2 separate regions of the Homo sapiens genome follow, and region 1 is linked to region 2. Evidence: fine-mapped expression QTL. Tissue or cell type: prefrontal cortex. Region 2 holds a variant in brackets; the other region holds the start of a gene. All regions are shown on one strand. Distances are from middle to middle.

Region 1 (2,682 bases), 120 kb after region 2:
TGGCCAAAATGGTGAAACCCCCTCTCTACTAAAAATACAAAAATTAGCTAGGCGTGCTGGCGCGTGCCTGTAATTCCAGCTACTCCGGAGGCGGAGACAGGAGAATTGCTTGAACCTGGGAGGCGGAGGTTGCAGTGAGCCGAGATAGCGCTACTGCACTCCAGCCTGGACGACAGAGCAAGACTCCGTCTCAAAACAAAACAAAAACAAACTAACGAATGCATTCCATTCCTTATAAACACGATAAATTATCTATACCACTTAAAAAGGTCTGGAAAAAATTCAAAACAACTGCTTAGAAGTTAATTCAGGAAAACCACGTTTTTCCAATTTTGCTTGATGCATCTTACTTCCTATCAAATGCCTGCAACAATGAGCTAAGCTTGAAGGTATCTAATGATACTAGAACAAAATTTCCTATAAAATCCAATTTAATCTCATTACAATGCATATAGTAACGCACAGAAATGAAAAGATTTCTATGATTTTCTATTTAGAATTAAACCACCCCAGGGCAACAATGATTGAGATTAGAAAGGTGGTGCCACGTTCACGACCTTGCATCAAAAAGTAAGTCTCCCTCCCGAAACACAGAAAAAAGCTGCTATTGAAAGGGCATCTCGAATCACCGTCTCTGACACCGTGTGCGTCATTGCTCTAGTTCTGACTTCTATCAGCGGGCTAGGGAAAGAGACGGACGCCCCTTTCCCCGATAGAAGAGCCCAGGTACCTGAAGATGCAATGTACACATGGCGTGGAAATGGAAGAAAAAGAAGACACCGAGAGTTAGGAGAAATGTGGAGAGAGGTGACTCATGGACAGAGCCAAACCTGGCAGGGAGAGGACAGAAAAAAGGCAAAAGAGGCAACCAGAGACAGACAGAACACTGAAGACACAAGGGTGTAAAGGGCAGAGACAAAAGGACAATAGAGACGGGCCAAGATTGAGAGGCGTCCAGAATTTTCGGGTTGGGTAGGGCCAGAGAAAAGGGCCAGTATTGAAGCCGGCTCCGAACGTAAGCCCAGCCAGGGCTCCTGTCATTCTGGGTCCTCAAGAACATCTGGGAATTCTCCAACTGCCGTCGGCCTGGCCTGAGAGTCACCTGCACATTTTTGGAGATAGAGATAAGACAGCCCCACTCTCAAGAGGCCCCAGAATTAACGGGGCCAGATTAGAGCCTGCACTTACCAGGCCACAGCGGCCCGACGTAGTCGCCACATCCCGCCGGCGGGGAGGTCACGCAGGCGCCGAGACGGCCACGCGGGAGCCCCCGTGTGAGCCCCAGCCCGGCTCCCGGTCCAGGAATGACCCAGGAAGTGGCCCTCAGCAGCAAGGGCACAGAGCCGCGGCCGAGGCCCTCCCAATGGCGCATGGACTTCCGCAAGAGCCTGACAGGCACCCGTACTCAGTCCGTCACGGAAACAACCACTTCACCCTTTCTAGGCGGGCAGCACGAACGGTCCGCGGAGGACCAGCGCATGCGCACAGTGCGTCGGGAACGGACTGGAGCAATCCATCGCCTCTCACGGGGCCCCGCCCTCTTGCTTCCGATTTGGAATTCGGAATTAGCCTTGCAGGTTAGAGATTTGGCCAGGGGAGGGAGCGAGAGTTGGGCGGGAACGGGAAGGGCTAAAGGCGTGGAATGAGAATTGATGAATGCTCACCGGGAGCCATGAATTTATTAAGAGTTGGATATTGAGGGAGCACGAAGGAAACTAGAGAGTGCAAGGTGAAATACAGTAATAGCGTACTACAAACTAATGCTTGCACATTTGCCTACCTTCTTTCTTGGGCATCTTTGTTTGAAAGCACTTTCACATCGTTAGGGCAATCATGGGAGGTGAGAAGCAGGACGAAGAGTCATGGATAGGCTAAGTCCCTTAGAATCTCTGAGGATCAGATGGGAAAGGGACTTAAATCAGTTAGGCCAGTAACGGGTTTGGAATAAGCTTGTGTGGTTTATAAAAGGCGTCAAAATGATTTGTTCAACTGTTTCTTCCGGATTTTAAGCCCACCAGTTTGTTGAAATGGTCCTCGTCAAGGCCTCCACCAGCTCCCTATTGTTTGTGGCCAGTGAGCCTGCCACAGCATTCAGTTCAGATGCCTAGTGCTGAGCACTCCTTCAACTACTTTTTCTTTTGGCTCTCTGGCCATCACATTCTCCTTTTTCCCTGGAACTGCTGCTCCCAGGCTTCTTTGATGGCTCCCCTCCCAAATTTCTCAATGTTGGACAGGCCCAGATCTCAGCCATCTTGAGCTCCTCTCCTCCATCACTTTAAATACTCCTTTCCCCTTCCAACACAAACCTTTTATGTTTTGTAAGGAAACCAGGGCCCGTAAAAGGGATGTGGCCTGTGAACGGTTATGAAGCCAATTTTTAGGGACTAAAATAAAAGGGTCCTGTGCATCCTCTTTACTTCAGGGACCTTTCACCTCCTCCCCACTACCCGCCCCCCACCCATGCCACACACATACACAAATACACAGAGCATAAAGACAATTCCTTTTCCCTTAATTGTCAGAATCATAAGTCTGGACCCATGCACTCACAATACCACCAAGAGTAGACCTAGCCATTGATAGTAAACTTCCCAAATGCAGGACTCTTAGAATTTTCTTTATTTATTGTGGTGACTGTTTCAATGGCAGGTCCAGAGAGCAATTTGCTGTACCAACCTGTGC
Region 2 (2,682 bases):
TTTCAGGAAATGGCGATTATAAAGCATTTCTTCATGAAGAAAAGCTTTCTTTTTCATAAGGAAAGGACATTTCTTCTTCATAAATGGGTTAAACCTTATAAATGCCTAAGACGTTGGCTTCCAGTTCAGGGTTTCACTTTTCCCGATAATTTCTGAGTGAGACACTGTACCATTGACAAATACAAGAGACTGCTTTCCAGAAACTCATGTTGCCCAGGGAAGCAGCTCCCGCTTTGTGAGCTCCAGGGCCCCAGTGCCCGGCCATGACCTGTGACCTCCTCGCTCCCGGCCTGGCTGTCAGCTGGAGAATGTGAGGGGCCAGCCTGCATCAGCTGGACAGGGAGGGCCTGGACACACTGCCCGGAGGCTCTGCTTTCCACAAGGGGCTGACCCCTCACCTCAGGTGCTGTGTCCCGAGGGCAGCCTGGATGCCCAGTCAGGGGGCAAGAGCTTAGACACCCCTGCCCTGAGAGCATTTCTCTTTCTCCCATTTTTATCAGAAAGGCTCTGATGAGACTCCCTGCCCTGCCCTCTTTCTGCCTCCAGGGCCCACACATTCAGGGAGGCCTCCCATAACCATTAATTTAGCCAATTTCCTGGGCCGCACCATCCCCCGGGGACCCCACTTTGGTGGGCAGCAGCGGAACAAGACCCCCTGCTGTTTCCCTTCCCTTTTAATTACACGAGGACAAGCTTCCTTGGGCTGACTTTGGGAGGCAAGCCCCAGGCCAGCCTGGCTGCCCTCCACGAAACAATGCACACATGTTCCGGAGAATTCCCTCCTCGCCTAATCCGGGCTGGGAAGAAAAGGGCTTTTCTTCTTCTTGTCAAAGGGAGTCTTCGATGCTAAGATACCATTTTGTGTCTCAAGTCATGTCACGGGACTTCTGCCTCAGCCTCGCTGCCTGCTCTTTGGAAATGAAAGACACAGTCCTTGATTCACCTCAGGACAAGTGCCCCCACCCTGCCCTCCTCTGAAAATGAAAGGGGGTTGGGGGCCAAGGGAAGCGGGAAGAGCTCCCAACTCCCACTGTTTCTTTCTCATCCTGGCAACCTCGGCTTTCTGAACTATTTGCCCAAAGGATGAGTAGGGAGGGCTGAGCCTCACCTGCTGATCTCAAGGGTCATGAATATTCTTATAATCCCCTGGAAAAAAGGGCCCTTTCATTAGAGAAGCGGATTCAGTCCTGGCGGCCTTCGGTGTTCCCACCTCCTCCTGCCCACCGGCCTGGCCTCCACTCTGCGGTCCGGCTCCG[C/T]GGCCTCTGGGTCCCTGCTGGCTTTTCGGCTATTCGCATAGACTAGAAGAAGAACTGGATTTTCATAAGGCACTGCTATGCTGCTTTCCCTCACTAATCCATGTCCCTATGTCATAGAAGAGTTAAAAGAAATAACAAGAAAGAAGTTACAGACATGCAACCTGCCCCTTAGAAAGGGGCAGTTTCACACGAGGGAACTTGCTGAACTCCCTTCAGTACACACGAGGGAACTTGCTGACCGACTCACTGGTAGTTGCATGTTTAAGTTCACACTTTACTTCATTGGACAAAAGGATCTAAGGTCACTTTTGGAAATTCCCACAATAATGCAGATGAAGAAATCAAAGTTACATGAGGAAAAAAAGGGAGCAAGGTGAAATCAAGTCAAGGAAAAATTTAATACCATGAAATTAAGGACTGAATCTGCTTTTCTGATGAAAGGGTCCATCTTTCTAGGGGGTTATAAGACATATAATGTAAGGCTCCATATGAGAGCAAGGATAGGCTGATAATTTAGTTTTGGGCTTCCTAGCAGCCAAAGTAAAAGGAGAAAAATGGTCAATAGAAGGCAGGCACAAAGCATTTGCTCAGGGGTGGCGCAGTTCTTCCTGATGCTGGGTTCTCTATCAACCGTGGGTCCTGGAACAAAAACACTGGTGTGCCGCATTAACAATGTCATCATTAACATCCCTGCGCCAAAGGTAAGAGTTTCACTTAGCAATGCTAAATGAGTTGGACCTGAATCCTCTGCATCTTCTTAAGAAAAATACAGACCCACATGACAGCCTACGTTTTCTTCAGAATCTGTAAGTGCAGCTTATTGAGTTGGTGCCACACAGGCAACACCCTTAAGGGCCTCTCCTGAACAGACATGAATGCTCAGGACTTGGGCTGTGAACTGGACTGTTCACTCTTCCAGGCCCAAGCCCGTAGCACCAGCACCAGCAGAGCAGTTGGAGCAGCGGTGGCTCCACAGAGCAGAGCTGGGCCCTGACTGGAAGCAGAGGCCACTGAAATGTCTGCTAACCCTTTGCTTAGCAGAAAGAGTGGAGGAAACACCTCTGGAGAATAAATTGTACTTGTGTCAGCATAGGTGAGTAGACAGTGCAGGAGAGGGGCAAGATTCCATCAATATTTCTTTTTCTTTTTTTTTGTTTTTGAGATGGAGTCTTACTCCGTCACCCAGGCTGGAGTGCAGTTGTGCCATCTCAGCTCACTGCAACCTCCGTCTCCCTGGTTCAAGCGATTCTCCTGCCTCAGCCTCCTGAGTAGCTGGGAATACAGGCACCCGCCACCACGCCCGGCTAATTTTTGTATTTGTAGTAGAAATGGGGTTTCACCATGTTGGACCTTGGCCTCCCAAAGTGCTGGGATTACAGGCATAAGCCACCGCATCTGGCCAATTCCATCAATATTTCTGATGCCA

Direction of the effects. Positions count from the first base shown, and alleles are read on the strand shown. Sizes are in standard deviations (SD) of each study's normalised expression.
As copies of C replace T in region 2, the expression in prefrontal cortex of the gene that starts at base 1,390 in region 1 goes down (small effect, 0.19 SD a copy in ROSMAP).

What was found. PIP is the estimated chance that this variant, and not a neighbour inherited with it, causes the effect.
Region 1: OPA1 starts here. The variant in region 2 is fine-mapped to the expression of OPA1 in prefrontal cortex (ROSMAP, PIP 0.95).

Annotation. Positions count from the first base shown.
Region 1 is chr3:193,591,916-193,594,597 of GRCh38, reverse strand. It overlaps OPA1 (OPA1 mitochondrial dynamin like GTPase), which reads right to left and starts at 1,390. Exons shown (of 31, transcript NM_130837.3): 1 at 1,189-1,390. The coding sequence starts at 1,220. It also overlaps a transcript of ATP13A4 not described here. RefSeq lists enhancers at 832-911, 425-1,076, 1,512-1,561, 1,612-1,681, 1,077-1,728 and a silencer at 1,142-1,291.
Region 2 is chr3:193,709,280-193,711,961 of GRCh38, reverse strand. No RefSeq gene overlaps it. Among named protein-coding and RNA genes, the nearest start is that of OPA1-AS1, 83 kb to the right of the region's middle. RefSeq lists enhancers at 1-816, 817-1,752. The variant C/T (reference allele first, on the strand shown) is at 1,257.